2 linked regions of the Homo sapiens genome follow. The protein of the gene in region 1 interacts with the protein of each later gene in a pairwise test. Each region holds a gene or a part of one and is shown on either strand. Other genes may lie near its edges.

Region 1 (6,242 bases):
AAGACCAGCCTAGGCAACATGGTGAAATCCGATCTCTACACAAAAATACAAAAATTGGCTGGGCGCGGTGGCTCACACCTGTAATCCCAGCACTTTGGGAGGCCAAGGTGGGAGGATCACAATGTCAAGAGATCGAGACCATCCTGGCCAACATGGTGAAACCCCATCTCTACTAAAAATATAAAAATTAGCTGGGCATGGTGGCATGCACCTGTAGTCCCAGCTACTTGGGAGGCTGAGGAAGAAGAATTGCTTGAACCCAGGAGGCGGAGGTTGCAGTGAGCTGAGATCATGCCACTGCTCTCCAGCCTGGTGACAGAGCGAGGCTCCGTCTCAAAAAAAACCCAAAAATTAGCTAGGTGTGGTGGCACTGGCCTGTAGTCCAGCTAATCAGGAGGCCGAGGTGGGAGCCTGCAAGGTCAAGGCACAGTGTGAGATGTGATCATGCCACTGCACTCCAGCCTGGGTGACAGAGTGAGACCCTGTCTCAATTAAAAAAGAAAGAGGCCAAGGTGGGCGGATCACGAGGTCAGGAGATCGAGACCATCTTGGCTAACACGGTGAAACCCCGCCTCTACTAAAAATACAAAAAATTAGCCGGGTGTGGTGGTGGGCACCTGTGGTCCCACTACTCGGGAGGCTGAGGCAGGAGAATCGCTTGAACCCAGGAGGCGGAGCTTGCAGTGAGCCGAGATCGCGCCACTGCACTACAGCCTGGGCAACAAAGCGAGACTCCGTCTCAAAAAAAAAAAAGAAAAAGAAAAAAAAAAAAAGAAAGACGTTGGGCATGGTGGCTCACGCCTGTAATCCCAGCAGTGTGGGAGGCCGAGGCGGGTGGACACTTGAGGTCGGAGTTTGAGACCAGCCTGGCCAATACGGTGAAATCCCATCTCTACAAAAAAAAATACGAAAATCAGCTGGGCGTGGTGGCAGGCGCCTGTAATCCCAGCTACTCAGGAGGCTGAGTCACAAGAATTGCCTGAACCCGGAAGGCAGAGGTCGCAGTGAGCTGGGAGCAAACCACTGTACTCCAGCCTGGGCGATAGGGCGAGACTCCGTCTCAAATAAATAAATAAATGAAAAGGAAAGAAAGGAAAGAAAAGAAAGGAAGGAAAGAAAGGAAAGGAAAGGAAGGAAAGGAAGGAAGGAAGGAAGGAAAGAAGTCCTGACTAAAAAGTTTTGAGAATCCTTCCATTTTTCAAAACCCTCCTCAAATCTTCACCTCCTCCATGTAGGCTTCTGTAATCACTTTGGTTTTCCAAAAGGTTAGAGAAAAAAAGGATTAATGATAGTACTTTCAGCCTGTTTCTAATTGTTTTGCCTTTCAAAACACTGTCCTCCCAATAGAGCGTCTATAAATCCCAGAAGCATTTTTGTTGCACAATGAAAATGGAATTTTATAGTTCTGATGATGTACACTTAAATAAAAATATGACTGTTAAATAGTTTATTACTGAATTAGTTTGTAAGTGAAATTTGTTCTGAGATTAGGATGTATTCTGAATAGAGTCTGTCTCATTTGACATTTTTACCAGCCTCTGCCAATGCTTAACTGAAGGACTTTAACATACAGGGTATATATTCATAATACTAGTCTGTCTACTGATTTCATCCTTTTATGTCTGCTAATCTTGACCTTGTAAACAAGGTCTCAAGGAAAAATACACAAAATAACATGCAGACTTAACCACATTTGCCAACGCAGTATCTCAGATTCTTCCAACAGCTGTACGAGAACTTTTACAAAATTAACTTTTGGTTACTTAATAGCTAATTATTGACCCCTTTTCCTGTTAAGGCCTAGCCTGAAGATCTAATAAGACCTTTTAAATGGGAACAAATATTCTGTGTTAGCATGTAAAGAACAACTATGAAGCTAAAAAAGCTAGACTCCTTTACGACCTTAATTTGTGGAACAAAAAATCCCAATGGAAGCACTCTGCTCTCAAGCAGACCCTCCATAAAGTGGCAGAAAAGTGTTTTCATCCATATAATCAAAGTATCATGAAAAGGACCTGCCTGGAAACCAGAAAGCAAATGTGAAATAAAGGTCTTTAGTTTGCCACTCTATGAAAAAGTTTAAACGTCAAAGCTTAGGCAGATAATGAAATTCATAAGCACTTTACAGTCCGTGGTGCGCACTTGAATTTCAGCGTCGAGGGAGGAGGGTGCGCCTGGGTTTTATCTTTTACTGCTTCAAAAACAAGACATTTCCAAACTGGGATAACCACACTTATCAAATTAAGTAAACAGCTTCCTAAACCAACTTTCTGTCTGGCTAGCTGTGTATTCGGCTGACTCACTTGGCCAGTGAAAAACAAGATCGTGCTTGTTTCCCCTCCAGTATCATCAGGGTGTGTAAGCCAGTCCTGCTCAAATACATGCTACGGTGATACAGAAAGTACGCTGAAGAAATAGAGAGCCCTAACCACTCAAGGTGGCCTTTGGGAGATCCAGCCGCCCTCCGCCCCTCTTTCCGCTCCCTCCATCCCCATCCCGGCACCCCCGCGGCCAGTGCCCCCTTGCCGAGGTCCGCGGGGTCCCGCCCCAGAACTTCCCGAATCGCCCACGAAGCCGCCCTCTCCGAGCTTTCCGAGAGATCCAGCCCGTGTGACCAAGGCTAGTACTCCAGTCTCGTCTGCCACTTACCTTGCTGGGTCCCCAGGCCGCTGCCGTCCCGGGCTCAGGCGATGCCACTCCTACCAGATCCATTCGGGAATGAAGGCAGAGACAAGAACAGAGCAGAGAGGTGGCAGGACGGGCAGCAGGCTCCGCCGAGGAGACAGGCGGGACACGGGCGACTGGCTGCTGATGCCGGAGTGGAGGTGACAGATGGCGGCGACGGCGGCGGCCGCGTCCGGAACTGGATCTCTCCTCTTCCGCCCTCTTCGCTAGGACAGTCGCTTGCAATTGGCCGCACGCCCCTAGCTCCTCCTTAAGGCACCTTTCCCCGCCCCCGGGCGGGCTACTTCCGGCTGCTGACCGCCGGGCTCGGAGAAGCAAGCATCAGCTGGCTGTCGCTTGGGGTCACGTTGCCTGTGTCGGGCAGGGCAGGGCAAGAACTGGGTGTGGCTTCCTTTGGCCCAGGCTCTGCCCTGTCCCCGCACTGCCATCTCCTTCTTTCCTCCTTGGCACCCCAAAAATTGCCGCTGGATCTAAACTAGATTAGACTAGTGGATTGTAAATAAATAAACAAACTAGGCTCTCTCTGTTCATTCATTATTTCCTGGAGCAGTTCTAAACTGGGATGACTTGGGAGACAGAAAACGGCAGGTTTATAGAGGGAAAGGGCCTGGAAAGGACGGTCGGAGTTTGTGGTGGTTGTTGTTGAAGGGCGGGGCGTGGAATGCGGAAAATGTGTAAAATGTGTTACGTAACAGTGAACAAAAATAAGACTGCATAATAAAACTTTTGTTTCTGTATTTTGTAGAGATTCTAATAAAATGACCAGATAAAAGATAACTAAACATTGCATTTCACTTAGTATATCAATGCACTGTTCAAATCTTTCATTAACTTTTTAGTCCTCAAAATTACCGTGAGAGCTAAATTCTGTCATTATCTCTATTTTACTGATATTGAAACTGAGGCACAGAGAGGTAAAGTAATTTAGTTGAGGTCACACAGATAACAAGTGGCAAAGCTAATAAGGGGTGAACCCAGACAATCGGTTTGGGAACTGGACTGGCTGTACATTATATTTTGACTATAAACTATACACTGTCTATATGTTGTATATTCAAACATTCTAGAAATAGGTACTGAATAACTGTTTTCCCTAAATCTCAGTTCCGAGTCAGTATCTCTAACTGTCCATACTTGAGAGCCCTGGGTTACTGATCTTAATGATTTCCATTAGCACACAATCTTTGCCTCCTTTCCATTCCAGGTGAAAACATGTTCTGAATCCTCCAAATACCCCTACTGCAATAAGGCAAACTATAGCCATATGATAGGGTGCAGATGTGTGCTTGGCAAATGTTGCCTATATATGTGAATGTGTGTGGAAATTGTGTTCCTTCCTAGTGTTCAAAGGATTATAATTGGACGATAAATAGTTTAAGAAAAATGGGTGTAACTATTAATAGAAATGGACTTCTCAATTCTGGCTAGGAAAAAATAGGAGAGGGCTGGGCGTGGTGGGTCATGCCTGTAATCCCAGCACTTTGGGAGGCCAAGGTGGGTGGATCACCTGAGGTCAGGAGTTTGAGACCAGCCTGGCCAACACGGTGAAACCCCATCTCTACTAAAAATACAAAAAGCAGCCGGGTGTGGTGACACGCACTTGTAATCCCAGCTACTCAGGAGGCTGAGGCAGGAGAATCACTTGACCTCGGGAGGCCGAGGTTGCAATTAGCCAAGATCATGCCACTGCACTCCAACCTGGGCAACAGAGTGAGACTCCGTCTCAAAAAAAAAAAAGAGAAAAAAGATTAAAAGGAAAAGACCAGACCAGAAAGAAAGGCTAAGGCTGAGATGCAGTGTATGACAAAAATGTGCCAGTGAGAGACTATTTGGGGGATATATCAGAAAAGGACAGGAAGTCGAAAATAAAACTAAGAATCTGAATATTCTTTTTGTTTTGTTTTGAATGTAAAGGAGAGAGGTCAGATCTTTTTTTTTTTAACTTTTTTCTTTTCTTTTCTTTTCTTTTCTTTTCTTTTCTTTTCTTTTCTTTTGAAATAGAGTCTCGCTCTGTCGCCAGGCTGGAGTGCAGTGGCATGATCAAGGCTCACTGCAACCTCCACCTCGTGGGTTCAAGCGATTCTTCTGCCTCAGCCTTCCGAGTAGGTGGGACTATAGGCGCGTGCCACTGCACCCGGCTAATTTTTGTATTTTTAGTAGAGACGGTGTTTCACCATGTTGGCCAGGCTGGTTTCGAACTCCTGACCTCGTGATCCGCCCGCATTGGCCTCCCAAGGTGCTGGGATCACAGGCGTGAGCCATCGCGCCCGGCCGGAAGAGGTCAGATCTACCCAGATGTCAGGAAGGATTCCTTAGAGTAGATGACACTTGATCTCAGCCTCACAAGATGACCAGGCATTGGTGAGATGGGCTGTAAGGTGGAGCAGGGCCTTCTGTACAAGGGGAGCAGTCTTCAGGGTACCTCGGAAAAGGCCAGGTGGTTCGGCATGGTCAGATGTAGGGTTCAACAGGGACAAAGTGAGAGAATGGGTTGGAGAATGCAGGAAAGGTTCAGGTCCAAGAGTTTTTTTTGTTTTTGTTTTTGTTTTTTGAGACGGAGTCTCACTCTGTCGCCCAGGCTGGAGTGCAGTGGCATGATCTCGGCTCACTGCAACATCCCCCTCCCGGATTCAAGCAGCAATTCTCCTGCCTCAGCCTCCCGAGTAGCTGGGACTACAGGCGCGTGCCACCACACCCAGCTAATTATTATTATTATTATTTTTTATTTTTTTATTTTTGGACACAGTGTCACTCTGTAGCCCAGGTTGGAGTGCAGTGGCGCAATCTCGGCTCACTGCAACCTCTGACTCCCAGGTTCAAGCGATTCTCTGGCCTCAGCCTCCCGAGTAGCTGGGATTACAGGCGCCTGCCACCACACCCGGCTAATTTTTATTTTTATTTTTTTGTATTTTTTATTAAGAGACGGGGTTTTGCCATGTTGGCCAGGCTAGTCTCTAATTCCTGACCTCAGGTGATCCGCCTGCCTCGGCCTCTCAAAGTTCTGGAATTACAGACGTGAGCCACTGCGCCCGGCTGACACAGTCTTTAAATGTGTTAATACCTTCAGTCTAATTTCAAGTCTCAGAAACTTTTTCTTTCTTTATTCCAACTCTGATCCAATTTCTCTTATTTCCAAGATTTGATTCTTGGGTTTTGGTGCCGATGTTGGCAGTGCCAGATGGGGGCAGGGCAGGATGGGAGGCAGGCATCTCAATGGAGGTCAGGAAGTCTGAGATAACTTCCGTTTTTTGATTGGTTGACTGGGTGGAAGGCGGTGCCTGGAGATCTGGTTTGAAGGGAAGATGATAGAATTAATTTTATGTTATACATGTCACAATTAGGTTGTTTATGGAACACAGCAGCGATCAAAAACTGTAAAACTGTAAATACACATTTATTTGCCTATCTGTTTTTTTTTTCCTCCCAGGAGAGCAGGAATTGTGTTCACTATTGTAAACCAGTGCCTAGCATGGTGGCTGGCATATAGTAGGCACTCAATAAATATTTGCAAATGAACAAACTGTATGGATGCTGTTTGAAAGTGGCCAATAGGCAGT
Region 2 (4,494 bases), on another chromosome or scaffold:
CAGTCTCTGTTCACTGCAACCTCCATCTCCGAGGTTCAAATGATTCCCCTGCCTCAGCCTCCTGAGTAGTTGGAATTACAGGCATACACCCCCACGCTTGGCTAATTTTCTTGTATTTTTAGTAGGGATGGGGTTTCACCATGTTGGCCACACTGGTCTCGAACTCCTGACCTCAAATGATCTGCCAGCCTTGGCCTCCCAAAGTGCTGGGATTACAGGCGTGTGCCACCGCACCTGGCCTGAAATGTTAATTTCAAATTTAATAATGAAGGAAAATGTTTGAGTGCTATTTTAAACGTTATAAATGGGCCCGAACTAGGTTAACTTACAGTGAATTCTCCAGTAACAGCATCAAAGCCAACATGGATGGTGTGCTCAAAATCAGATGGAGGAGAAATTTCTGGCCGTTCCTTTTCTTTCTTTTTACTTCCTAGGGGGCATTAGAAAAAAAGAGAAAGAATCAGCCTATTTAAACAAGACTAGTAAAGGCACTTATAATTTTATTTTTTGTCTTTTGTTTTTTTAAATGGAGTTTCGCTCTTGTTGCCCAGGCTGGAGTGCAGTGGTGCAATCTCAGCTGACTGCAACCTCTGCTTCCCGGGTTCAAGCCATCCTCCTGCCTCAGTCTCCCAAGTAGCTGGGATTACAGGTGCCCACCACCATGCCCGGCTAATTTTTGTATTTTTAGTAGAGACAGGGTTTCATCATGTTGATCAGGCTGGTCTCAAACTCCTGATCCACCTGCCTTGGCCTCCCAAAGTGCTGAGATTACAGATGTGAGCCACCGCATGCCCGGCATATTATGTTTATATTTTTCCTAAAACATATTAGGATCAAAGTTATTCTAGAAAACACACTAGAATCAAAGTTATTCTAGAAAAGATTTCCCCTAAAAACTGGCTGATAGGAAACTAGTAAATGAAGTAAAGCAGACTGTCCTGCCATAGAGTAGGGCTGGACACAACCAAACACTGAGGAGGCACATGGAGTGACCAACGGCAGGCCTGAGTAACAGAGCACAGGCAGAAGAGACACCCCCTTCGGGCACCAGCTCTCTCACAAAGGGCTACATCTCAGATGCTGAGCAATGTGGACAGCAAACACAGCAAACCCCATTTCCACTCAGCTACATTCATCAGGAAGTCAGATTTGCATTACTGTGACTCCGCAGATAATACACACTGTCAAGACAAGTAGTTGACAAAACCACCTCTCCTTTTTTGTGCAAGCATAATCCTTTTTTAGTGGAGTTACTAATTGCCACATTTTAAAACTATGCAGTTTTTCTATGGTCCGATTGTAAATTATTTCTGCAACATTTCTGCCACACACCTATCAATAATGTTCTCTGTGAACTCCAACACATCAGTTCCTTCCCCCTACCCCCTCCCTCTCAGCTCCTCCTGCTCTAATCTGCAGTAGCTCATGCCTACGCTTCCTGCAGTTACCGTCCATGACATCCCTTCACTCCTGCCCTGTATGTGCTGGAATCTATTTTCTGGATCTTACGTTTTCCTCTTGATTTATCCCTTTAGTGATAGTTCTTCACTAATTTTATATATATATAAGTTGGAACCCTCAGCATTTCCAGTGTTGCCATTTAGAAGGCCAGCGCCATTTTGGTTCCTGTTTGGAGCCACTGTTGAAAGTCAATTGTCTGTACACGTGTGAGTCTATCTCTGAAGGCTCTGCTCTGTTGCAATTATCTGTTTGTCTGCCTTTATGCCACTATCAGACTGCCTTGATTATTTTATTGCCATTTTGTAATACGCATTGAAACTATGTCACATAAGTCTTCTTTTTCTTTTGTCAAAGCTGTTTGGGTAATCGAGGTCCTCTGCATTTCCCTATTAATTTTAGAATAAGCTTATTAATTTCTACAGAAAGCCTGTTGGAATTCTGACTAGAATTGGAATGAATGTACATACAGATGAATTTTAAGGAGAATTTCTTTCTTTCTTTCTTTTTCTTTTTTAACAGGGAGTCTCATTCTGTCGCCCAGGCTGGAGTGCAGTGGCGTGATCTCAGCTCACTGCAACCTCTGCCTCCCGGGTTCAAGCAATTCTCCTACCTCAGCCTCCTGAGGAGCTGGGATTACAGGCATGCACCATCATACCAGGCTGATTTTTATAATTTCTGGTAGAGATGGGGTTTCACCATGTTGGCCAGGCTGGTCTCAAACTCCTGGCCTCAAGCGATCCATCTGCTTTGGCTTGCCAAAGTGCTGGGATTACAGACATGAGCCACTGCACCTGGCTGAGAATTTATTTCTTGATTTCTTAACAACACCGAGTTTTCTGATCCATGAAAACAGCAAATCTTTTCATTTATTTAGGTCTTTAAAAATTTCTCTCAGCAGTGTTTGCAGTTGTCTTCATCCGTTCGGTACGCTTTATCAGAATACCACTGCCTATGCAATTGATTAATATAAACATTAGAAGCTGGCTGCGAGCAGTAGCTCATGCCTGTAATCCTGGCACTTTGGGAGACTGAGGTGGGCAGATCACATAAGGCCAGGAGTTCAAGACCCATCTGGCCAACATGGCAAAACACTGTATCTAAAATGCAAACTTCAGCCGAGTATAGCGGCACAAGAATTGCTTGAACCCAGGAGGTGGAGGCTGCAGTGAGCCGAGATTGTGTCACTGCACTCCCCAGCCTGAGTCACAGCGTGAGACTGCCTCAAAAAAATAAAAGTTCATTTGGCTCACAGTTCTCCTGGAGGCTGGAAAGTCCTCCAGGTCAAGGACCAAGAAGCCACACCTGGTGAGGGTCCTTCTTGTTGTGTCATAACGTAGCCGAAGGCATCACATTGCAAGAAAGAGAGCAGGAGAGGGCCAAACTGGCTTTTATAAGCAACTCGCATCCACAATAAAGACATGAGTCCATCCGTGAGCACTCGCGTCGCCTCTTGAAGGTCCCATGTCTCAACACTCTCTTACTGGGGCTTCAGTTTCTAACACATGAACTCTGGGGGACACTTAGAAACAGAGCAGTAGTTATCAGTGCAGAGCGCACACTGTTTCATCAGATTTCTGCCTCGGTATTTCCTGGTTTTGATACTATTGCAAATGGCAGTTTTAAAATTCCCTTTTTAATCATTCATTGCAGCCATAAAGAAACACAGTTGTTTCTTGAATACTAATCTTATATCCTGAAACCTTATTACACTTACTTCCACTAGTATTTTTGTAAATATACAATTTTGCTACAAAAATTCAATCATGTTGTCGGTGAATAAAATCAAGTTTACTTCTTTCCAATCTGGATTCCTTTTATTCGTTTTCTTAAAAAAAATTTTTTTTTGCCTTACTACATTAGCTAGACCCTTCAGTACATTGTTGAATAAAAGTGGATGAAGAGAAATTTTATTTTTCCTGATCTAAGAGGAAAAACTGTCATTCTTTTTACCCTTAAGTTTAATGCCAATGGTAGGTTTTTAAAAGATGTCCTTTATGAGGCTAAAGGGCATTCTCTTCTATTCCAAGTTTGCTGAACACTTCTATCAGCAATGGATACTGGGTTCCGTCAAATGCCTTTTCTCCATGTATTGAGACAAACCCATGGCTCATCCTTTCTATTGTGTTAATACAGTAAATAACATCCATCGATTTTCAAACTTAAACCAACGAAATCCACTTGGTCATGATGTATTACCCTTTTTATACACTGCTGGATTCCAACTGCTAAAATCTTGCTAAGAATTTAACATTGGCCAGGCACAGTGGCTCATGCCTATAATCCTAGCACTTTGGGAGGCTGAGGCAGAGGGATCACTTGAGCTAAGGAGTTCAAGACCAGCTTGGCCAACATGGTGAAGTCTCGTCTCTACTAAAAATACAATAATTAGCCGGGCGTGGTGATGCATGCCTATAATCCCACCTACTAGGGAGGCTGAGGCAGGAGAATCACTTGAACCTGGGAGGTGGCAGTTGCAGTGAGCCAAGATCGCACCACTGTACTCCAGCCTGGGCAACAAAGCAAGACTCCTTCTCCAAAAAAAAAAAGAGAAAAGAAAAAAAAGTTGGTACATATTTGTTCATACCATCTTTTTAATATCTGTAAAATCTGTAGGGGTGCCACCACCTCTCTCATTCTCAATATTGGTAATGTGTCTCTCCTCCCCATCCACTGCCCCCTGTCAGTCTGGCTATAGGTTTATCCATTTTATTGACATTCTAAATGAATCTACTTTTGGTTGCAGTGATTTTCTCTGCTGCTTTTTCCCCCTATTTCATTTATTCCCATTTTGCTTTTTATTATTTCCTTTCTTCTACTTACTTTGGATTTCATCTGCTCTTCCCTTCTAGTTTATTAAGATGGCTTAGCTAAAGTCATTGATTTAAAATCTTTTCTTCTAATATGGTGTTTAATACTATAAGTTTTCCACTAAGTACTGCTTTAGCAGTATCCTACAAATATTGATGTTTTGAATTTTCATTCGGCTTAATATATTTTCTAAATATCTTTTTATTTGTGAAGTGCTTTCTTTAC

Evidence for each region.
Region 2: the proteins of RIOK3 (region 1) and PAK2 interact in a two-hybrid assay, tested with the Homo sapiens proteins (one large-scale study listed by BioGRID and IntAct).

The regions. Positions count from the first base shown.
Region 1 is NC_000018.10:23,449,910-23,456,151, reverse strand, and holds the start of RIOK3 (serine/threonine-protein kinase RIO3), read right to left. Parts: upstream 2,866-6,242; 5' UTR 2,713-2,865; coding exon 2,650-2,712; intron 1-2,649.
Region 2 is NC_000003.12:196,797,863-196,802,356, reverse strand, and holds part of PAK2 (serine/threonine-protein kinase PAK 2), read right to left. Parts: intron 431-4,494; coding exon 330-430; intron 1-329. UniProt on the Homo sapiens protein: Serine/threonine protein kinase that plays a role in a variety of different signaling pathways including cytoskeleton regulation, cell motility, cell cycle progression, apoptosis or proliferation.